Homo sapiens: one gene and its partners. The protein of the gene in region 5 interacts with the protein of the main gene of each other region in a pairwise test. Each region holds a gene or a part of one and is shown on either strand. Other genes may lie near its edges.

Region 1 (3,500 bases), on a different chromosome or scaffold from region 5:
ATCCATTGATGGAATAGGCTACCCCGAAAGGCAGAGAGCATTTTGTCATTGGAAGTATGTAGGGCAGTGTGGATGACTCTAGGGTGACTGTCATGAGGGTTCTGCACTGGGGAGGGGGCTGCGTTGGATGATGAATGGGAACCCTTCCAGTGCTAAGATGCTGTGATCGTTGTCCTGCAGGATTGGGATTGTGCAGGATTTGAGCTACTGTGTAAATTTCCTATTCCCTGCTCATTGGGCTTCCACATTTTGCTTCCTTCCCTTGCCCAGGTGGTTCCATTTCAGGAAGCCTAGATAGCTTCTTTGCAGTCATCTGCCCGAATGTCGTAGCTACTTTAACTCCCCAGAGCTGTACATGTCTAGGATTGATATTGATCATTAACACAATTATGTTCGCCCAGATGAACAAATCTACCAGGAGTAGAAACGTGCATTTGACAGGTGGCCTTGCATGGAGACTAATCGCTTTCACAGGTTGAAAGGTGAAATATCTAAAGTTTAATGAGTAAGTTGTGTCCTGAATGTGGAATCTGAGTTGAAATTGCATTTTGTGACATGTACGCCTACCTAACTTTTCTTTTTCATACCTGTCATCTTTTTTTTTTTTTTTTTGAAACGGAGTCTTGCTCTGTAGCCCAGGCTGGAGTGCAGTGGCGCAGTCTTGGCTCACTGCAACCTCCGCCTCCCAGGTTCAAGCAATTCTTCTGCCTCAGCCTCCCAAGTACCTGGGATTACAGGCATGCCCCACCACGTGCAGCTAATTTTTGTATTTTTAGTAGAGACAGAGTTTCACCATGTCGGCCAGGCTGGTCTTGAGCTCCTAAACTCAAGTGATCCGCCTGCCTCGGCTTCTCAAAGTGCTGGGATTACAGGAGTGAGCCACCGCGCCTGGCCTGTACCTGTCATCTCTTGGTTTGTGAGTGGATTGATTATTGGACTTTATTTTTAACACAGGAGAATGTGCGTGTTTTGCATTTGTAGTGAAAGCATGCCTCATCTTACTCCAACACTGATAGGAAAAGGAAGATTATTTTACAATGGTCAAGTGAAAAAAAAAGTAAATACAGAGATAAAACGGGGTTCTAATATTTCTGCTACACTGGAAACTTAGAGTTGCAAGAGCTGTTTTGGGATCACAAATCTTCTGAAGAAAAAAAGTTTGCGTATTTCAGTACAAGTCTTAATGTTTCCCTAGCGTCTTGTGTTATAGCTGCAGGCCAAGCAAAATGAAATGTGAGACACTGTCCTTGGGGATAGAGCATCTGTATTCAATTTAAACAGTAGATTTGGGGGCCTTAAATTGCCTCGACTCTATTAATCATTTTGTGTTCCTTAGTTTATAGAATTATCTCCTAGAGACATTAACTTATCCATTAATTTCTTCCATTGTGTTTATTTATTCATTCACAAACACTAGCACCTACTGTATACACAGTACAGTGTTGTACATTGCAGGGTACTTAAAAATGTAGAGTGCCAGGCATGGTGGTGCATGCCTATAGTCCCAGCTCCTTGGAAGGCTGGGGCGGGAGGATTGCTTGAGGCCAGGAGTTCAAGGTGGCAGTGCGCTATGCTTGTGCCTACAAATAGCCACTGCACTCCAGCCTGGACAACATAGCAAGACCCTGTCTCAAAAAAAAAATGAAAAAACTCCCCCAAAACCAAAAATGTAGATTGTTCTCAAGGGCCATCCAGTCTAGAGAGAACTAAGGGAGCCTGGTATTCTTAGGCCTTAGAGCTTAACAGCCACACCTAGGATGCCTCTTCAGAAGGTGTTCCAGCCCTTCCTGTGTCTTCCCAGTTCTGATACTGGATTATGTCATTATGTCTCTGTTGAGTAACTCCTTCCAATCAGGCCTGCACACTGCTGCCAGGACAGTCCTCACAAAGCACAGATCTGATTGGGTTATTGTTCCTCTGTGGAAGGGGCTTTCAGAGACTCATTATCTCCCCCCAAGCAAATTCTTAGCATCTCTTTTCAAGCTTTCCATACACTGGCCCTTAAACACTTAAAACGGACACTCTGGCCTTTTTATTATGCACATTATTCTGCCCACCGAGAATATTACAGAATCCGTCTTTCTTGCTCCCAATCTGAACGCATCAAAATGTCATCCCTCATTTACCACCTAGCAAATCAATAATGCTTCTCAGCCTTCCCTGGTTCTCTGGAATCGTCTGCTCTCTCCTTCTTCTGTTATAGTTTGTTATGGATATAACCTGTTTTTCTGACTCCAATGTAGACTTCTTCAACTCAAGGTTTCAGTTCTGGTTTATCTCCTTACTCCCTCATCTATGTAGTACACTTATGGTTTACTCTGTTCTCACTGGATTAGACCAAACTCTTAATTATATTTAGGATGTATTAATCCAATGCATAGATTAACCAAGTCTATTATTTTTATATCTTTTGAAACCAATCAGGAGTTTCAGAAGTTCAGTTCAGTTTAAATATTTATTGAGATGCATACACTATATAGTCAGATACTATGATAGCTCTTGAATATAAAAAATATATATACTTATGTTTGTATATATATGTGTAAATTGATATGTAAATTCAAATAGATAGTGTTGTCTACACCATTGAGAAGCCTATAGTCCCGTGGAAAAAAGAGAATTCATTCTCATGAAGTTTCCGGATATTGTTTCATCAGAAGGACTGGGCACATCGGGGTGTACTAAAATCATTAAGAAGTATTTAGCACCAGTAGATGCCTAATAAATACCTTACAGTCTAGATGGATGGATAGATGGAGGAAGAAAGAAGGGCTCCTTTAATTTATAATTTACCTATTGCTGGGTTTACTCCTAGGTATGACAATTTTGAAAACAATTTACTCAATGTTTATTTCCACACTGTGTATGAAATATGCTGCTCTTCATTCAGAAAGAGATATATAATTCTCCATTTGTAGAACACTGAGTTAATTTCATGGTTGTGATGTTGCTTTTGCTTACTTTCACCCACATTTTCTCCTCTGTAGGGTGGCAGCTCCGTAGGGTGGACACACGCTTTGGGAGACCTGCAGCTGTTTGTGTCTGGGGGCAATGGTGAAGGGCAGTGACTCATTGGCCCAGAACTCATGATCTCATCTCTCACCCAGCTGGCTAATCGGCCTTGGGGACAGGAGGATGAGCGCTGCACTCCCTCCTAATCATGCAGCTTTTGTATGTCTTTCTTTACTTGACTTAAATTGTAATTTGAATGGAAAAATGGACAAATTCTATCATTTGAATTTAACTTTTATATATTTTCTTGACTCTGATTTGGGATTATCTAAGTGCATTTATTCAAATATTTATTGTGTTTTTGAAACTTTTTTTGAAAAGCATAAGGTAATACATGATAAAAGATATTGTTATTACCCCTGTTTCTGCCATTTCAAGGAGTCAGAACAGGCTCAGTGGAAACAAAATGAGATGTCTTATGGGAGTTACTTTCCCTTCAGCTAATCTTGGTATGAATTTATATTGACACTACCTTTAAAATTTTATTC
Region 2 (3,500 bases), on a different chromosome or scaffold from region 5:
TATTGCATGCAACTTATGGTTGGGCGGAAATGAAAATGAACATTTAAGGGTGTTAATTTTTCTGCCTCTTCCCTTCTAGGATTGTATTATTATTCACTGTTGATTTTTAAAGGAAAATTTCAACCATTTAGGGCAGCAATTTTCAGAAAAGAATTTTCTAGTTAGAAATACTACAAAGATTCTAGTAAAGACTTTGTGGCCAAGCTTAACTAAGGCCAGTATTTCTGAGCCAGTCAAGATTCAGATTGCAACTAGTACATATTTTTCTGATGTTTTACTTTAAGTCGTTAAAGAGTTCATCAAAAGGTGTGATGCTATTAAAGCCTAGATCTTTTTACATCTTTTGCACTTTGTGTGGACTGGGACTGTTTTTGCCAAGAATGCATGGAATGGGGTAAAATACAATAAAGCAAAGAATCTGAGTCATGGGAAACTTCAGGAAGTACTCAAAGAAAGCTGTTGGAAGCAGTTAGCTCTGCATGTAAATATAACCTCTACTGCTAGGGTTGCTATATTTTTCCTGTAAAGAGCCAGATAATAAATAATTTAGGCTTTGTAATCTCTGTCAGATTTCTCAGCTCTCCCATTGTAGTGCAAAAACAGCCATAGACAATATATGAATGAATGAACATGTCTAATTTTGTCTTTTTTAAAAAACCCAGGAACTTGGATACGATTGGTGTTGCTGTTGATTTGATTCTTCTGTTTCGTGAACTGCGAGTGGAACAGGAATCTCTGTTGACAGGTAGCATGCAATATAATTCATGGATTATTTATATCTTTATAAAGGGTTCAAAACCAGTACTTTGAGTATTAACATCATTCATTGAAACACATGTTCTGTATTTCATGAGATAGGGAAACTTTAATAGTGAATTATTAAAGAATTATAAAGTTGTATCAACTTCCCTTCCTGAATGGCTGAATTTTGTTCCTTTCACATTTGTATGTTGAAGTCTGTCTGTTCCAGTTGCTATAACAAAATGCCTTAGGCTGGGTAGTTTATAAACAACAGAAATGTATTGCTTACAGTTCTGGAGGCTGGAAAGTCCAAGATTAAGGTACCAGCAGATTGGGTGTTTTGCGGGGGCTGCTCTCGTCTTCATAGATGGTGCCTCTTGCTTTGTTCTCCTGTGGTGGAAGGTGGAAGGCAGAAGGCATAAACAAGCTCTCTGGGCCCCTTTTATAAGGGCACTAATCCCATTCACGAGGGCTGCACCATCATGACCTAGTCACTTCCCAAAGGCCCCATCTTATACTAGCAAGTTGGGGATTAGATTTCAGCATAGGAATTTCGGAGGGGCACAGATATTCAGATCATAGCATGGTCCTAACCCCCAATACCCAGAATGTGACTGAATTTGGAGATAGGATCTTTAAAGAGGTAATTAAGGTAAAATGAGGGTATATGACTGGTATCCTTATAGGAAGAGGAAATTAGGACATGGCCATGCTCAGAGTAGAGACCATGTGAAGACACAGGGAGAAGATGACCATCTACAGGCCAAGGAGCGAGACCTCAGAAGAAATCAGCCCTCTCGACACCTTGATCTTGGACCTCCAGCCACCAGAACTGTGTAAAAATAAATGTCTGTTGTTTAAGCCATTCAGTCTGTGGTAAGACTTTTAATATTTATGAATGTGACAGGCCCTGGTCCAGGTTTTGGGTGTGATTCAAACAGTGACCAAAACAGACAAAAAGTGTCTGTCCTTAGAGAACTCACATTCCGTTGAGGGGAACCACATGTTAAGTGTCTAAGTCAAGTATCTAGTGTGATGAAAATGGAACTTAGCTCTGATTGTTAACGGTTGTTGACTTGGGATTAAGAGAAACACCACACTTCTTTAGACTCATTAGTAGAATGGTTTTGGTCTTTGTTCTTCTAGCATCAACATCTTTCCTTTGGACAGTGGTTATTATCTTAACATAATGTTTAAAAAAAAAACGTAGATTTTTAATTTATGATCTCTTTGTGCCAGGAATTGAAATACTTTATGGGTAAACCTAAATTATTTGATAAAAAAATCTTAATGTAGGCTGGGTGCCGTGGCTCATGCCTGTAATTCTAGCACTTGGAGAGGCCAAGGTGGACAGATTGCTTGAGCTCAGGTGTTTGAGACCAGCCTGGGTAACATGGTGAAACCCCGTTTCCAAAAAAATACAAAGGCTGGGTGCAGTGGCTCAAGCCTGTAATCCCAGCACTTTGGGAGGCTGAGGCGGGCGGATCATTTGAGGTCAGGAGTTCAAGACCAGCCTGGCCAACATGGTGAAACCCCCTCTCTACTAAAAATACAAAAATTAGCTGGGTGTGATGGCGCATGCTTGTGATCCCAGCTACTCAGGAGGCTGAGGCAGGAGAGTTGATTGAACCTAGGAGATGGAGGTTGTAGTGAGCCGAGATCGTGCCATTGCACTCCAGCCTGGGTGACAAGAGTGAAATTCTGTCTCGAAAAAAAAAAGAACCGGGCATGGTGGCACACGCCTGTAGTCGCAGCTACTTGGAGGCTGAGGTAGGAAGATTGCTTGAGCCTGGGAGGTGGAAGTTGCAGTGAGCTGAGATCACGCCGCTGCACTCCAGCCTGGGTGACAGAGCAAGACTCTGTCTCAAAAAAAAAAAAAAAAAAAAAAAAAACAAAACCCCAGAAAATTTTAATGTAAATTTCCAGGTGGATAAGTTAGATGTACTAAATTATAGGTTAAATTTTGTTGTTGTTGGCTGGGCGCAGTGGCTCACGCCTGTAATCCCAGCACTTTGGGAGGCTGAAGTGGGCGGATCACGAGGTCAGGAGATCTACCTGGCTAACACGGTGAAACCCCGTCTCTAGTAAAAATACAAAAAATTAGCCGGGCATGGTGGTGGGCACCTGTAGTCCCAGCTACTGGGGAGGCTGAGGCAGGAGAATGGCATGCACCCAGGAGGCAGAGCTTGCAGTGAGCCGAGATTGCCGCCACTGAACTCCAGCCTGGGCGACAGAGCGAGACTCCACCTCAAAAAAAAAAAAAAAAATTGTCATTGTAATAACGTCTTTACCTTATAATTCAATGAATATAACCTTTAAATGAGAAGTCTCCAGTTGCATTTAAAATATTATTTGACTTACAAATTGTTTTATATACAGTTTTAATGCCTGTACTTTGCATATAACATGAGGCATATTTCTTTTTTTTTTTTTGAGATGGAGTCTTACTCTGTCGCCCAGGCTGGAGTGCAGTGGTGCGATATTGGCTCGCTGCAACCACCGCCTTCCCGCCGGGTTCAAGCGATTCTCCTGCCTCAGCCTCCCGAGTAGCTGGGATTACAGGCGCCTGCCGCCGCACTCGGCTGATTTTTTGTATTTTTTTATTAGAGATGGGGTTTCACCTTGGCCAGGCAGGTCTTGAACTCCTGACCTCATAATCTACCCACCTCGGCCTCTCAAAGTGCTGGGATTACAGGCATGAACCACCGCACCTGGCCACGTGAGGCATATTTCTATTGATGTTAATATGTGTGCTTCTC
Region 3 (3,500 bases), on a different chromosome or scaffold from region 5:
CCATTAACTCGTCGTTTACATTAGGTACTTCTCCTAATGCTATCCCTCCCCCATCCCCCCACCCCACGACAGGCCCTGGTGTGTGATGTTCCCCTTCCTGTGTCCAAGTGTTCTCATTGTTCAGTTCCCACCTATGAGTGAGAACATGCAGTGTTTGGTTTTCTATCCTTGCGATAGTTTGCTCAGAATGATGGTTTCCAGCTTTATCCATGTCCCTACAAAGGACATGAACTCATTCTTTTTAATGGCTGCATAGTATTCCATGGTGTATATGTGCCACATTTTCTTAATCCAGTCTATCATTGATGGACATTTGGGTTGGTTCCAAGATTCTGGTATGTTGTGTCTTTGTTCTCATTGGTTTCAAAGAACATCTTTATTTCTGCCTTCATTTTGTTATTTACACAGTAGTCATTCAGGAGCAGGTTGTTCAGTTTCCATGTAGTTGTGCGGTTTTGAGTGAGTTTCTTAATCCTGAGTTCTAATTTGACTGCACTGTGGTCTGAGAGACAGTTTGTTGTGATTTCTGTTGTTTTACATTTGCTGAGGAGTGCTTTACTTCCAACTAAGTGGTCAATTTTTGAATAAGTGTGATGTGGTGCTGAGAAGAATGTATATTCTATTGATTTGGGGTGGAGAGTTCTGTAGATGTCTATTAGGTCTGCTTGGTGCAGAGCTGAGTTCAAGTCCTGGATATCCTTGTTAACCTTCTGTCTTGTTGATCTGTCTCATATTGACAGTAGGGTGTTAAAGTCTCCTATTATTATTGTGTGGGAGTCTAAGTCTCTTTGTAGGTCTCTAAGGACTTGCTTTATGAATCTGGGTGCTCCTGTATTGGGTGCGTGTATATTTAGGATAGTTAGCTCTTCTTGTTGAATTGATCCCTTTACCATTATGTAATGGTCTTCTTTATCTCTTTTGATCTTTGCTGGTTTAAAGTCTGTTTTATCAGAGACTAGGATTGCAACCCCTGCTTTTTTTTGCTTTCCATTTGCTTGGTAGATCTTCCTCCATCCCTTTATTTTGAGCCTATGTGTGTCTCTGCACATGAGATGGGTCTCCTGAATACAGCACACTGATGGGTCTTGACTCTTTATCCGATTTGCCAGTCTGTGTCTTTTAATTGGGGCATTTAGCCCATTTACATTTAAGGTTAATATTGTTATGTGTGAATCTGATCCTGTCATTATGATGTTAGTTGGTTATTTTGCCCATTAGTTGATGCAATTTCTTCCTAGCATTGATGGTCTTTACAATTTGGCATGTTTTTGCAGTGGCTGGTACTGGTTGTTCCTTTCCATGTTTAGTGCTTCCTTCAGGAGCTCTTGTAAGGCAGGCCTGGTGGTGACACAATCTCTTTGCATTTGCTTGTCTGTAAAGGATTTTATTTCTCCTTCATTTATGAAGCTTAGTTTGGCTGGATATGAAATTCTGGACTGAAAATTCTTTTCTTTAAGAATGTTGAATATTGGCCCCCACTCTCTTCTGGCTTGTAGGGTTTCGGCCAAGAGATCTGCTGTTAGTCTGATGGGCTTCCCTTTGTGGGTAACCCGAGCTTTCTCTCTGGCTGCCCTTAACATTTTTTCCTTCATTTCAACCTTGGTGAATCTGACACTTATGTGTCCTAGGGTTGCTCTTCTCGAGGAGTATCTTTGTGGTGTTCTCTGTATTTCCTGAATTTGAATGTTGGCCTGTCTTGCTAGGTTGGGGAAGTTCTCCTGGATAATATCCTGAGGAGTGTTTTCCAGCTTGGTTCCATTCCCCCCATCACTTTTGGGTACACCAAACAGACATAGATTTGGTCTTTTCACATAGTCCCATATTTCTTGGAGGCTTTGTTCATTCCTTTTTACTTTTTTCTCTAAACTTCTCTTCTCGCTTCATTTCATTAATTTGATCTTCAATCACTGATACCCTTTCTGCCACTTGATCAAATCAGCTACTGAAGCTTGTGCATGTGTCACATAGTTCTCGTGCCATGGTTTTCAGCTCCATCCGGTCATTTAAGGTCTTCTTTACACTGTTTATTCTAGTAAGCTATTCATCTAATCTTTTTTCAAGGTTTTTAGCTTCCTTGTGATGGGTTTGAACATCCTCCTTTAGCTTGGAGAAGTTTGTTATTACCGACCTTCTGAAGCCTACTTCTGTCAACTCGTCAAAGTCATTCTCCATCCAGCTTTGTTCTGTTGCTAGTGAGGAGCTGCGATCCTTTGGAGGAGAAGAGGCGCTTTGATTTTTGGAATTTTCAGCTTTTCTGCTCTGGTTTCTCCCCATCTTTGTAGTTTTATCTTCCTTTGGTCTTTGATGATGGTGACCTACAGATAGGGTTTTGGTGTGGATGTCCTTTTTGTTAATGTTGATGCTTTTCCTTTCTGTTTGTTAGTTTTCCTTCTAACAGTTAGGTCCCTCAGCTGCAGGTCTGTGGGAGTTTGCTGGAGGTCCACTCCAGACCCTGTTTGCCTGGGTATCGCCAGCAGAGGCTGCAGAACAGCAAATATTGCTGCCTGATCTTTCCTCTGAAATCTTCATCTCAGAGGGGCACCTGGCTGTATGAGGTGTCAGTCGGGCCCTACTGGGAGGTGTCTCCCAGTTAGGCTACACGGAGGTCAGGGACCCACTTGAGTAGGCAGTCTGTCCGTTCTCAGAGCTCAAACACCATGCTGGGAGAACCACTGCTGTCTTCAGAGCTGTCAGACAGGGACATTTAAGTCTGCAGAAGTTTCTGCTGCCTTTTGTTCAGCTATGCCCTGCCCCCAGAGGTGGAGTCTACAGAGGCAGGCAGGCCTCTTTGAGCTGCGGTGGGCTCTACCCAGTTCAAGCTTTCCTGCCGCTTTGTTTACCTACTCAAGCCTCAGCAATGGCAGATGCCCCTCCCTCAGCCAGGCTGCCACCTTGCAGTTCAATCTTGGACTGCTGCGCTAGCAGTGAGCAAGGCTCCATGGGCATGGGACCCACTGAGCCAGGCATGGGATATAATCTCCTGGTGTGCCACTTGCTGAGACCATTGGAAAAGCGCAGTGTTTGGGTAGCAGTGTCTGGATTTTCCTGGTACAGTCTGTCACGGCTTCCTTTGGCTAGGAATGGGTAATCTCCCTACTCTTGCACTTCCTGGGTGAGGCAATGCCCCACCCTGCTTCGGCTCGCCCTTTGTGGGCTGCACCCACTGTCCAACCAGTCCCAACGAGATGAACCAGGTACCTCAGTTGGAAACGCAGAAATCACCTGTCTTCTGCATCAGTCACACTGGGAGCTGCAGACTGAAGCCTTTCATATTTGGCCATCTTGGATGCCCTTGGGTTTATTTTTAAAAATGCATCATTATAGTCTTGTTTTTCCCCTTTACTAGTTAGAAAATTATATACTTCTGTTCAGTTCTTCAGTGGATGTCCTAGAAATTCTCAAGCATCCTTAACTTATACAAAAGCCCAGTGTTAACAGATACCTTTACCAGTGTCCACCTCCATTGTAAACAAACTTAGAACACTGTTACTCCATTTACC
Region 4 (2,425 bases), on a different chromosome or scaffold from region 5:
GCAGCTTCTGCTGGTAAAGGGGGTCAGGAGGGGACCCCCAAACACACTGATCCTGGGGGGGAGGAGAGGTCTCCCACATGGCACAGATGGGGCCACTGAGGCCCTCAAGAGGAAGTGTGTGTCCCCCAACAGCAAGTGTGGACAGCAGAAGGAAGAGGCAGGGCCCAGCATGGAGAAACCCCATTCTAGTAGGACTTCCAGGGGCCAGTGTCCCCAGAAGGGGAGGGGTCTATGTCTCACCCTGCTCTTAGCGTCCACAGAGACCCTGACCCCCACCCCCGAGCGGAATGAGGGTGTCTACACAGCCATCGCAGTGCAGGAGATACAGGGAAACCCGGCCTCACCAGCCCAGGAGTACCGGGCGCTCTACGATTATACAGCGCAGGTGAGGCCTCTATACCCCAAACCCACCTGTGCCACCTCCCCTGCACCTGAGAGCTCCCTCTCCCATCCAGTGCCTTGCGTCCTCATCTCTCCTCATGGTTTCACTCATCTTCGAGCATCCTCTCCTCCTCAGGAGGGCACGTGTGCCCGAGTGTGTCCACACTAGCAAGGGTACCTGGGAGTGTGCTTGGATGTGAGCTCTGAGAACAGCACCCAGGGCTTGCGGGGCCTCAGTGTGCATGTACTGACTGGAAGCTGGTGTGCAGCAGGCCTGTGTCTGCCCGGGCCTGTACACAGCACACACGTGGAGCACATGTACCTATGCCGTCCACACAGGCTGGGCGCTGAGTGGTGCACACGTGCGGGGAGCTGGCAGAGCCTGGAGCTGCCTGCAGGTCATAGCTTGAGGGCCAGGCTCTGTGCCTTTGGGTCAGGGCCCTGTCCTTCGTGGCCATGGGTGTGGAAAACTGTGGCCAGAATGAGTCTTGCTATCGTGCCAGGATTGATTTTCTGATGTCCATAGGGTGAGGATGAACCAAGGCAGCCACAGGGCAGCTATGAGAGTCCTTTCTGCTCCCTGCTTGAGGGGAAGAATGCATAGCCAGACCTCACATCCACCTGGACTGAGGCCAAGCACCCCCACATAGCCAGGCAGGCTGGGTGTGGACTCCACTGATGAGGCCAGGGCTCGGGGAGGCAGGGAAGCCAGGCCAGGAGAGTGATGGGGTACTTGGATGGCAGTGGCTAGCTGGGGCTGGGGACCGCAAAGGGGAGGCTTGTGGTAAGCTTAGGCATGAGTGTGCCCTGGGCTTGGGGTATGATGAGCACCCGTGACCCCTGACATGCTCCAGTCACTGCGTCTCCAGAATGGGAGAGGGGAGGTGAGGCTGGGAAGAAACCCAGGTTGGGGGAGAACTATGATGACAAACTGAGGGGGATGGGAGGCCCGGTCCGTTGGGTTACCCCCATCCTGTGTCCCCAAGGGGCTGCCCCTGCCCACCCTGGGAGACATGCCGCATTTACTGCTGGGTGGGGGAACGCCAGGCCCCTCCCTGCAGGCCCTTCCCTGCAGGCCCTTCCAACGTCATGCGCTTTCAATCTCTTGGCCAGAACCCAGATGAGCTGGACCTGTCCGCGGGAGACATCCTGGAGGTGATCCTGGAAGGGGAGGATGGCTGGTGGACTGTGGAGAGGAACGGGCAGCGTGGCTTCGTCCCTGGTTCCTACCTGGAGAAGCTTTGAGGAAGGGCCAGGAGCCCCTTCGGACCTGCCCTGCCAGTGGAGCCAGCAGTGCCCCCAGCACTGTCCCCACCTTGCTAGGGCCCAGAACCAAGCGTCCCCCAGCCCCGAGAGGGAGCCTGTCGTCTCCCAGGGAATAAAGGAGTGCGTTCTGTTCTCCTTGGTGTGCTGGGGTCCCGTTCTCTTTTTCTCCTGCTCCAGTGTCCGAGTGCTCAGTTCAGAGGAGGCAAAGGAACAAGGGAAGGAGCCTGGATGTGGAGCTCCCCAACTCAGCCGAGGCTTCAGCTATAGTTGGAGAAGAGGCCTGGCCCCAGTTGCTAGGAGCTCCCAGACTGCCAAGGAGACACATTCACACCTGGACAGAGGACACAGGGGTGCAGGAGGATGTGGCAGGGGCAAGAAGGGGCTCAGCAGGGCTGCAATGGGGAGAGCAGGCTTCTTGGGGGCGGAGGGTTGAGCAGGTCCATGGCTGGGCAGCAGTGGCCAGGCCAGGGCAAGTGCGTGGGCAAAGGTGAGGTTGGGGGTACACCCAGGAATATTCGGAGGACTCAGTTTGGAAACAGGAAGCTGGTGATGGATCTGTTGGAGAGGCCATGGTGGGAGCCCAGGAAGACAGGCTTGTGGCTTGTGGGTGCAAGTGGGGCCTGGGGAAGCCACTGCTGCCCATGACACTCCCCTCAACATGGCAACCCCGGCCGAGCAGGGGTCCACAGCCCAGGCACGTTGGCCCCGGGCACAGAGGGAGCTGTTCTTGAAGGCCTTCAGCCCCTTCTCTTTTTAGTCCCAGGAACATAACTTTCAC
Region 5 (3,500 bases):
TAAGTCTGTCTTTCCTTTGTGGATAATTTGTTATTTATCTACCCCTATCCATATACAGGCTCACACTTATTCACTCCTTCCCTGATCTAGTCCTTGTAAAGGTTTTTTTTTTTTTCCTTGAGTTTTGAGATTCAGGTATTAGGGTTTTTTTCTGTGTTTTTCTTCTTTCTCCCCCACCCAAGGCTATTGGATGAGTCCTTCTGAGAAATCGGCTGGGGAAATTTTCTTATATATTTTTAAAATTAATGCTCTATTCCCATCATCTTTGCTCCATCTTTCTGGAAGTACTAATAAATGCATATTAGATTTTCTAGAATCAATTGTTCATGTATCTTTTTTTCTTATAACTTACATTTATTTACTACCTTTTCCTAAAATATAGAGAATTCCCAGGTTAATTTAGTTTTCAGCACTGTCTTTTCTTCCTTTTGGTGTATCTTGGCAGCTTTTTGGGACACACAATTTTTTATTTCCAAGTCTTTCTTGTTCTTGAACTATTCTGTTTTTTTTTTTTTTTTTGGTGAGAATCTGTTTTAGCAATTTAACCTCTTGAATCTCACAACCAGTAGGAATTAAGTATTTTTTGCAAAGTTTGTCTCTACTGTTTTCTGTGTTATACTTTGTGTTAGTGCAGAGTGTTTGGTGTAACTGGCTATCCTTTTGGAATCTTTTTGTTATTTAATAATTTTTAATTGTTTACACATTTTTAGAAAGTATTCGTTTCCGTATAGGATGATTGTATGGGTCTTCTTTCACCCCGTTAGTGGGCTTTTCAGTGTGCCACTTGGCAGTGAGTCATACAGTGACATGTGGGGTGCAAGTCACTGAGCCGTTCCTAATTTTAGATATCTTGTTTAATTTTTCTCCTTTGTAGTCAATGGAAATATTTCAGTCAAAATTAGAAGATGCTGAAAAAGCTGCATCCACGAAAGAAGATTATAGACGGGAACGGTGGAGGAAACCCACATATTCAGATAAAGCACAAAATTGTCAAGAAAGTAGAGAATCAGACTTAGTAAAATATGGTAACAGTTCAAGGGATAGATATGCTACAACAGATACTGCAAAAAATAGCAATAATGAAAAATTTATTGGTGATGAAAAAGATAAGAGACCTGGGTCTTTAGAAACGTGTAGAAGAGAATCTAACCCAAGGCAAAATCAAGAGTTTTCTTTTGGCAATTTGAGAGCTAAATTCTTGAGACCCTCTGATGATGAAGAACTGTCATTTCACAGCAAGGGCAGAAAATTTGAACCACTTAGTTCATCTTCAGCATTGGTAGCTCAGGGCTCTTTGTGTAGTGGTTTTAGAAAACCCACCAAGAACAGTGAAGAAAGATTAACATCATGGAGTCGCTCTGATGGGAGAGGAGACAAGAAACATTCAAATCAAAAGCCATCGGAAACCAGTACTGATGAACACCAACATGTTCCAGAAGACCCAAGAGAAAAATCACAAGATGAAGTCTTGAGAGATGACCCTCCAAAAAAAGAACATCTACGGGATACAAAGTCTACATTTGCTGGGTATTTTATCATTTTTTAACCTAATAAGTTAAGATCCAGAGAGTTCAAAGAACAGAACTGTATTTTTAGAACATCAGTTATTAGCTGTGACTATGATCTCACATTTCTTAAAATTGATAGAAGGGGTAAGATATGCAGATTTAACAGGCAGTATTGTGGTATGGATTGCATTTTATTTCATAGGTTTTTTTTTTTTTAAGAGCTGAAAGCAGTAGCTATATTTGTTCAAAATATGTTGCTGCTTTGCAATTTAAAAAACTGAATGAGTTAATGTTTTAAATGTATGTGCTGCAGGAGATATTTTGGTAGATTTTGTTACCAATGCCATTACTTTCTAAGGAAATTATCTTATTGTTGAGTATAATCATAATCATAAATACTGCATGTCTATAGGAAGTCTAGGAGACAAAAGGAAAACACGCTGCCACGGCCCAAATATAAAGTGACAAATACATGCCAGAGATCTTGCAGAGGGGAGCATGAATTATGGTTGTTATTTTGCACAAAGAAAGAAATAATCCACTTTGGGCAATTGACAGATTTTAAAGATAATATTAGAGTTTTAAATATAAAATATATGTTGCATTTATGTAGGGCTGGGTTAGAAGATGAGGAAACCCAGGTTGAATGGGACTAAACCTAAGAAAATTTGCTTTAGAAATTTGCTGGCCCTGTTGGAGATAGCCAGAAAAAAAAGTGTCCAAAGGGTAACAACTTACACGTGAATGATCATTAAAATATGTTTAAAAATAGCACCAAATGAGTGGGACACTAAAGGAAGAGGTTTTAGGAAATAATAGAAACACATGGTTGTAGTAGATAAAAGCACTGTGGTTTGGGGTTGTGAGTCTGATAAATCACTTTTGTTAATGACTCCATCTGAAGCAGTGGATTATAAAACTCAGTGTGTAATTTTCGGTGGGAGGGAGCTGGCAAAATCTGAACTGAGTGATTAAGCCCCAGTCAAATGGACTCTGGTTCACATCAGGGCTTTCCTCCCAGGAAGTGGAAGGAGAAATCCAATTGTATTGACTAAACAAACATGGCAGGGATTATTGTCTAAGGCTGTATGCATATGTAATTGTCCAGTCTTCACTCCAGGTGCCCTGGGTGGTAGACTATTTCCAGTTCCCAGTCACTAGGGGAATGAGGCTCTTATTTCCTGATATCATTAGGATTGGGTTAGCATTTGGATGATCTGTAGGCCTTCTTCTGTGACTGTAGCTAAGCAAAATGTCTGCAAAGTAATACCACACGATTAGTATTCCAACCGGTTGTCTGATTGCTGCATATTTGTATGTCTTATTTAAGTTGTAAGCTTCTGATAGATACACTATAATACAGGCACTCACTAAAAGCTGTGTATGTATATAATTTTTCGGTTTGAAGACAGCACTCACTAAAAGCTATATATGTGTGTATATATATGTATGTATACATGTAATTTTTCCTTTGAAGACAGTATTCTTTGTTCGCTGTGTTAATTTGATGGTACAGAGGGTTTGAGGCTTTCTATGAATTCTGTGACTGGCTGGAGAGGGAAAGAAAAATCTAGGAATCATCCAAAAAAAAAGATTCCTGAGAATGTAGAGTGGTTGTAAAGTAGGAGACCAAGACAGGACCTTGAAGAATGCCTAGTTGTTACAAATAATCTTTGTCTTATAAGTGAATGGTCATGATTGGAAAAATTAGTTGAATTAGTTTTTACTTCTTTGTATGTATTGTTCATATATCTTTACCTTTCTTGTTATTTACACCAGTATTATTTTTTAGAACATGCCATTTGTAATCTTAATAAATGTATATGTATAAAATTTAAACAATATAGACAGAAGAGTATAAAACAAGAATATGAAGCATAGGTGAGTATAAAATGAAAAAGTAAATCTCCCTTTCATGTCACTTCCAACCCTAATCCTATTTGCCAGGTTAACAGTGTTGGTAGTGTCTTTCCAAATTTTTTAGTGTATTTG
Region 6 (3,500 bases), on a different chromosome or scaffold from region 5:
CAACCTAGGCTAAAAAGCGAGACTCTGTCTCAAAAACAAACAAACAAACAAACAAACACAATAAAGTAGGATGTAGCTAGGATAATGGAATGTCTACTTGGCATTTGCTTTAGAGAATGAAATTTATCATATGTCAGTTCTTTCTTTATAGCTTGTCAATTCAAAAGGTTTAGTCCACTCCATGTTGAAATTAGAGCAAATGTTGCCTCCACAGAATTTGAATTAATGACATTTCATTGGAATACCAACCTTAATTGCATAATATATTTCAGTGTTTCCACCTTGTCCATGAGCAAGTACGTTCTGAACTAAAATGGGATAGCAGTCTCTTCACTGGTAGCTCAAGCAATTTGTGGAAACCAGACTTCAGGGGCAATCACACATGGAGGCTGCCCCCAGGGGAGAAGAGAATTGGATGGAGCATCGTGGGAAGGAGGGGAGCGAAGGGAGGCGGAAGACGGAGACAGAAGACAAGCAGAGAGGGAATGTGTGTGTTAGCTAACAGCTAAAGCTAATTGATCTAATCAATCCAGCAGAGAGGTGATTTTTCTTACTAAGTGACAGGCCAAATCGGTGTCTGAACAGATGTGATGTGGGTTGCGTCCAGCACCTGGAACAAAGACAGCAAAGAGCTGCCCCATGGAGATCGCCAATAGATGTGCTTCATGTCAGTTAATCATTGTGGGAGAAGATAGGGCTGCCTTCAGGCCAGTGCCAGAGCACATGCACACACATGCACACACGCACACATACACACATACACACGCACACACACGTATCCATTTCATTCATCCACTCTCATTGTCTCTCCCTCTGAGACGTGCTTTCTTGTGATACCCAAACTCACAAGCCCAAGTACATCACATTACACAAATCTTCAGAGACTCCCAAGATGTCAGGACCCGGGAGATCCACACCTCTGCCTACCTGGGCTGGCCAATCTGTGGCATGGTCTGAGGTGAGCTCAGACAGCCCCCTCCCCGATGCCATGCCTGGGGCAGTCTTTAGGTGGCCACGAACCCATTAGAGTTACAGATCCTCTGGAGGAAGAGGATGGGCCAGTCTAGGTGAGACTTTCAGCCTAAGAGGGGTACAAGAACTGGGGCCCCTCAAGGAGGTTGAAAGTGGAGGTGAGATGGGGTTGGGAGTGGGCATTGTTCTCAAACCCTCCCATTCCTGTGCATGAATCTGACCTCACAGAATAACCTCTCAGGTGGCTGAGGCCATCCCCGCCCAAGGCATCAGGGCAGGGCTGTGCACTTGGCTCCCTGGCCTGTTGGCTTGGGGGACATTTTCACTCTTCTTGCTGCTGCAGAGCCATTTGCTGCTAAATCACCCTCCTCTTGGCACCATGGACTGCTAAATTGGTCTCAACTTGCTGTACTTCCACCCACCACCTTAGTCATTATTCGCTGGCAGCATTCAGAGAGTGGGTGTAAGGCAGCCGAACATTATATTCCTGCTGTAAAGAGGGAGAATTGAGTATAGACATGCAAGGAGAGGGGAGAGAGGGAAGGAGGGAAGACAGCGTGAAGGAGGCAGGGAAACAAGGCCTGGGGTTTGCCAGCACCTTTCCCTGGTGACCCCAGTGACACTGGATTGGGGGGGCATTATAGGTGAGTGGGTCCTGGCTCAGTGGGAGGAGACAGAGGGGTCCACCTGCTACTGAGTGTCTTCCCACCCCTGGTCTGGAGGCAGGAAAGGACATTAGCCATGGGAAGAGAAGGGTTCTGCCCTCTGTGAACTCCCTGTTCCTTGAATTCTACAGTGTATAACGTACTTGTCACTCCCATTTGAGCACTTGTTCCCATGTATTCATATTTAGCTTTTTATCTCTATCCTCCCTCCCAGCATAGGTTATAAGCCCCTTGAAAGAGAATGTGTGTCCCGCATCTGATATATAGCACCAGGCCTTAGGAATGGTCTAGGGCTCGGTCCCAAATGGCAGAGATGGATGGCGCTAAGGCCCACAGTGCTTCTTTCTACCCAGCCACTTCAGATCTCTCTGTGCCACTCAAGGGCCACAGAAATTGGAAAGCCAGGCAAGCAAGAGGAGATGGAATCACAAGGGAATCTACAGGGCTTGGTCTGCAATCTCAGTGGGAAACTCCAGGGAGGGAAAGGGTTACACTGCAGAACAGACCAGCCAGGAAAGCAGAAACTTAAGAGACCTGTGGTCCTTGTGCAGAAGGCTGGGGGTGATCTCCACCTGGCACATGGGCTCTCCTGATAGCTCATCCATTGCCCAATGCCCAGGCATGGTGCCGGGGCTGGCAGGAGGTAGGAAGCAGAATCGGTTCTCACATCGGGCAGCAGTGACAGCGTCAGGCAGGGCAGACTGACCTTGACAGGAGGCTCCCTGAGTCACTGATAACATTTGTTTGGGCACCCAGGGAGAGGTTAGAAAGGGAACTCATGCCATCCCAAGCTGGCTTGGGACCTCTTGGGGCCCCCAACCCAGGCTCCTTGCCTCCCACACTCTGCTTGGGGGAGATAATAGGAAAATGCCAAGAACAGAAGCCTCCCTAGCTAGGGAGATGGGGAGACTCTTGAGGGATATGGGGATGAGCCCTGAGGCTGCCCTTGACCTTCCAGAGAGGCAGCCCCATGCCTGGTGTCTGTAGGTACCTGTGTGGGGTCTGCCCTCCCCTCTGTCTCCCATGGTCATCCCCAGCAGAGGTCCAGAAGGACAATCTACACACTCAGGGTAGCTTCCCTTATTTATTGCAACCTTCAGACACTCCAGCTTGAGCTCTTCCCTGCTCCCCGCCACCCCCAAAGGGCATTTCCACAGTGCAAGGGGAGGAGGGAGGGAAGCATGGACTGGACAGCGCACACATCTTGAGGAGACAGCCTCCCCCTCCTTGCCTATCAAATTCCCCCAGCCCCAACGCCTCCGTGGCCCCAGCAGACAAACCACACTGCAGGCAGGTGGGGAAAATGAGAGGAGCCAGGCGGAGCCCCCAGCCTCCACCTGCACTGTAAAGCGAGCCGGCCCCTGAAGGAGGCCTGGGAAGGACTCCCCAGCTGCCTTCGGCTCCTCCCCTTGCCAGGCCCGCAGCTGGCCCTGCTCAAAGGCTGTGCAGCCGGCTGGTGGCTGGTGGGGCAGGTGTGGGCAGGATGCGTGGCTATTCCCAAGACAGGATTTCTTCATCTATCAAACTAGAAGCACCAGGCATTTGGCTTCTCTGGGCTTCCACCAGTACCTCGGACATCTGTTGACTTAGAAACTTTTTCTTGATGTTGGACTTACTTCTATTCTAGAGCCGCAGACAGGACCTCCAACTCTAGGGTCCTAAGATTTGTCAGGACACAAAAGAGCCTGTGCTGAAAAAACTTCAGATACTCTACATGCAAACACAACACCTCAGGGTTGAAAGGATGCTTAAAAACCACTCTATCCATATCCTCTCCCTGTCTCCCCTACACACACACAAATACTCACTGCCAAGAACTTTTATTTCACACCTCAGGAACCCAGTTCTTTCCATTTTCTTTTT
Region 7 (3,500 bases), on a different chromosome or scaffold from region 5:
CTTTAGGTATGCATTAGGCATCAAAGATTAAGATTAAGAATGATGTAAGATCAGGTGTATAGTGGGGAGGTCCAGGAATAGAAAACTTTGTACATGTGTCCTGACTATATGGTACAATGCAAGGTGGTAGAGATGACAGGGGCTGGAGGTAAGGAGTGTGGTCTGGGTCTGGTTTAGGGATGTCTGGGTCTCCCTTGTAACTCATCCCACCCCTCCCTGCTAACCAGGGCAATTCTGGAGGCTCCAGTGACAGAGCCCAGGTTCTTGGAGCAGCTACAGGAGCTGGATGCCAAGGCAGCCGCAGTCAGAGAGCAGGAAGCTAGAGGCACAGCAGCCTGCGCAGATGTCAGAGGCGTGCTCGATCGGCTCCGGGTCAAGGTGGGAAGTAGGGATGGATACCCTGGAGGCTACTGGAAGCAGCCTTCCCAAGATCTTCACTATGGATTTCCTTGGCAGAGCTCACTGTAGCCTGTCTCCAGGGACTTCACCCTGCCTTTTCTGGGCAGCCCCATTCTTGTCTCTCTGGGTTTCCCTGAAAATCTTGAGAAATACCAAAGAGATATTCACCACCCTTCTGCCTATGTTTACCATTTGTTGCTTCCCCCAGTTCCTCTCATACAGCAAAAGGGTTGCAGCTTCATGCCCTGTGTTTGGTTCCCCACATCTAGGCAGTGACGAAGATCCGAGAGTTTATCCTCCAGAAGATTTATTCCTTCAGGAAACCCATGACCAACTATCAGATCCCCCAGACGGCCCTGCTGAAGTACAGGTCACAACCCCAAGGAAGTGCATGGGATGGCCTTTGAGTTTTTGAGCGGCCTAGTGTGGGCATCTGGTTTCTTGGGAGACAGGTAGACTGACATGTTCCTGACCCCCTAGGTTCTTCTATCAGTTTCTGCTGGGCAATGAACGAGCAACAGCAAAGGAGATCAGGGATGAATATGTGGAGACGCTGAGCAAGATTTACCTGTCTTACTACCGCTCTTACCTGGGGCGGCTCATGAAGGTGCAGGTAAGGTCAGGAGGGAGAGGTATTCCTGGGCACATGGACTGGGAGGAGGGGACATCCCTGGGCAAGGAATATTTTATTGTGTTGTGGGAAGAGACGGTTATCAGTTCTCTTTTCTCTTTCCTTAGTATGAGGAAGTCGCTGAGAAAGATGATCTAATGGGTGTGGAAGATACAGCAAAGAAAGATATCCTAGTACTGGGGAACCCTCATGCCAGGCCTTGAGAGTGGGAGGACTTTCGACTCCAGCCACCAATGCACTGCTCCTTACCTTTTCCTATGGGACTGAAACCTTTTAGAATGTGATGAAAGCTATAGCCTCCCTCCCCAGAAAGATGCACACATTATTTTGACACATAGTTTTGCATATGATTGCAAGGGAGGGAGAGACACCCTGAAGCCCATTCACAGATGTCAGCACGTGGGGCCCTAGTACTGGGAAAGAGGGCTGGCTAGGCCACGTCTGCCTGTCTGGGGTCCCCACAGATAGTGAGTCTTTGGGCCCAGTTATGGTCTCATTGTTTTCCCTGACTCTGACCCATCTTACGATTCTTCTCAAAGCCATCGCTCCGCAGCAGGAACACCATTTTCACCCTAGGAACCCGCGGCTCTGTCATCTCCCCCACTGAACTTGAGGCCCCCATCCTGGTGCCTCACACAGCGCAGCGCGGAGAGCAGAGGGTATGAGGAGGAACAAGCTTCAGTCACGAAAGAGGCTCTGAGCACGGTGGGGAGGGAAGGCCAGACCTCAGGGCAGAGCTTCCCAACCTGCAGGCCCTGTCTTAATCCCCTTAGACTTGGGAGTGGCCTTCTCCAATCACTCCAGCCTGCTGTGATGTGAAAAGAGCTGGGAACCATTGACTTAAGGGCATGCAGAGGGGAGAGACTGGATGAGGGGAATGACAGTCAGAGGCAGGTGTTGAGGTGGATGCAGGAGTAGCAACAGCAGGTGGGTGTAGGCCCTTTTTGTACCCCTATGTTCCCCCACCTTTTCAGTGCCCATTCAGCTTGCTCTTAGACAGCCCGGACCTAGATAGATGCGAAGGGTCTGCCTAGCTCTTATTACTCAGGTTTACTGATTTTCCAGCCATATCCATGGGAAGTCAGTGTTGGGGTCCATCCCTTCTGTTTTTCTTCTTTACTCCTCCTCTCCCAGTATCCATTTGAGGCCCTCTTCCGCAGCCAGCACTACGCCCTCCTAGACAATTCCTGCCGCGAATACCTTTTCATCTGTGAATTTTTTGTTGTGTCTGGCCCAGCTGCACACGACCTGTTCCATGCTGTCATGGGCCGTACACTCAGCATGACCCTGGTAAGACTCCTGTTTCCTGTACCATTCAACACCTTTGTCCCCAGTCTTCATCAGCAGCATAGTGGGGTCATGACTCTGGTAGAACTGAAATCAGGATCGCCTCATTCTAAAATGTCTAAGCCTTGGCTGGGCGTGGTAGTGCACACCCATAATCCCAGCACTTTGGGAGTCCAAGGCAGTAGGATTGCCTGAGCTCAGGAGTTTGAGACCAGCCTGGGCAACAACCTCATCTCTACAAAAAATGAAAAATTAGCCGGGTGTGTGTTGATGTGTGCCTGTGGTCACAGCTACTAAAGATGCTGAGGTGGAAGGATTGCTTGAGCCCAGGAGGTCAAGGCTGCAGTGAGCCATGCACTCCAGAGTGAGACCTGTCTCAAAAAAAAAAAAAAAAAAAAATAGCCAGGTGCAGTGGCTTACGCCTGTAATCCCAGCACTTTGGGAGGCTGAGGCGGGAGGATCACAAGGTCAGGAGTTTGAGACCAGCCTGACCAACATGATGAAACCCTGTCTCTACTAACAGTACAAAAATTAGCCAGGTGTGCGCGGCCTGTAATCCCAGCTACTCGGGAGGCTGAGGCAGGAGGATTGCTTGAACCTGGGAGGAGGAGATTGCAGTGAGCCAAGATTGCGCCATTGCACTCCAGCCTGGGTGACAGAGCGAGACTCCATCTCAAAAAAAAAACTTGTTACTTAGACTTGTCACAGTGTTACTCCCCCATGAAATCCTCAGTGCGTAGGGTCCCTGAGACTACCCCTACTGCTGACCCACAATCAGGCAATAGCACGTGAAAACTGAGGGTCCCCCAAATCTTGGTGCTCAAACCCCTGACCCAAGCTCAGCCCTGAACTCTGCTGTGATAGGCTTGTGATCATAGATCCTGGTGTGGCCAGGTGCAGTGGCTTATGCCTGCAATCCCAGTACTTTGGGAGACCAAGGCAGGAAGGTTGCTTGAGGCCAGGAGTTCGAGACCAGCCTGGGCAATGCGGCAAGACCTTGTCTCTACAAAAAATTTAAAAATAAACTTAACCAGGCATGGTGGTACACACCCATGGTCCCAGTTGCTTGGCAGGCTGAGGTGGGAACATCACTTGAGCCCAGATGTTTGAGGCTGCAGTGAACTATGATTGTACCATTACAATCCAGCCTAGGTGACAAAACAACCTGTCTCTAAAGCCGAAA

What was found.
Region 1: the proteins of CWF19L2 (region 5) and DISC1 interact in binary tests that used the Homo sapiens proteins (3 or more experiments, as listed by UniProt).
Region 2: the proteins of CWF19L2 (region 5) and ATXN10 interact in binary tests that used the Homo sapiens proteins (3 or more experiments, as listed by UniProt).
Region 3: the proteins of CWF19L2 (region 5) and CEP70 interact in binary tests that used the Homo sapiens proteins (3 or more experiments, as listed by UniProt).
Region 4: the proteins of CWF19L2 (region 5) and PSTPIP1 interact in binary tests that used the Homo sapiens proteins (3 or more experiments, as listed by UniProt).
Region 6: the proteins of CWF19L2 (region 5) and LZTS1 interact in binary tests that used the Homo sapiens proteins (3 or more experiments, as listed by UniProt).
Region 7: the proteins of CWF19L2 (region 5) and VPS52 interact in binary tests that used the Homo sapiens proteins (3 or more experiments, as listed by UniProt).

The regions. Positions count from the first base shown.
Region 1 is NC_000001.11:231,633,290-231,636,789, forward strand, and holds part of DISC1 (disrupted in schizophrenia 1 protein), read left to right. Parts: intron 1-3,500. UniProt on the Homo sapiens protein: Involved in the regulation of multiple aspects of embryonic and adult neurogenesis. Required for neural progenitor proliferation in the ventrical/subventrical zone during embryonic brain development and in the adult dentate gyrus of the hippocampus.
Region 2 is NC_000022.11:45,692,334-45,695,833, forward strand, and holds part of ATXN10 (ataxin-10), read left to right. Parts: intron 1-662; coding exon 663-745; intron 746-3,500. UniProt on the Homo sapiens protein: May play a role in the regulation of cytokinesis. May play a role in signaling by stimulating protein glycosylation. Induces neuritogenesis by activating the Ras-MAP kinase pathway and is necessary for the survival of cerebellar neurons.
Region 3 is NC_000003.12:138,573,761-138,577,260, reverse strand, and holds part of CEP70 (centrosomal protein of 70 kDa), read left to right. Parts: intron 1-3,500.
Region 4 is NC_000015.10:77,035,551-77,037,975, forward strand, and holds the end of PSTPIP1 (proline-serine-threonine phosphatase-interacting protein 1), read left to right. Parts: coding exon 1-13; intron 14-251; coding exon 252-385; intron 386-1,494; coding exon 1,495-1,626; 3' UTR 1,627-1,925; downstream 1,926-2,425. UniProt on the Homo sapiens protein: Involved in regulation of the actin cytoskeleton. May regulate WAS actin-bundling activity. Bridges the interaction between ABL1 and PTPN18 leading to ABL1 dephosphorylation.
Region 5 is NC_000011.10:107,426,826-107,430,325, reverse strand, and holds part of CWF19L2 (CWF19-like protein 2), read left to right. Parts: intron 1-874; coding exon 875-1,527; intron 1,528-3,500.
Region 6 is NC_000008.11:20,293,964-20,297,463, reverse strand, and holds part of LZTS1 (leucine zipper putative tumor suppressor 1), read left to right. Parts: intron 1-3,500. UniProt on the Homo sapiens protein: Involved in the regulation of cell growth. May stabilize the active CDC2-cyclin B1 complex and thereby contribute to the regulation of the cell cycle and the prevention of uncontrolled cell proliferation. May act as a tumor suppressor.
Region 7 is NC_000006.12:33,265,377-33,268,876, reverse strand, and holds part of VPS52 (vacuolar protein sorting-associated protein 52 homolog), read left to right. Parts: intron 1-227; coding exon 228-378; intron 379-668; coding exon 669-769; intron 770-879; coding exon 880-1,012; intron 1,013-1,137; coding exon 1,138-1,195; intron 1,196-1,555; coding exon 1,556-1,689; intron 1,690-1,803; coding exon of another isoform or gene 1,804-1,869; exon of another isoform or gene 1,870-2,145; intron 2,146-2,164; coding exon 2,165-2,320; intron 2,321-3,500. UniProt on the Homo sapiens protein: Acts as a component of the GARP complex that is involved in retrograde transport from early and late endosomes to the trans-Golgi network (TGN).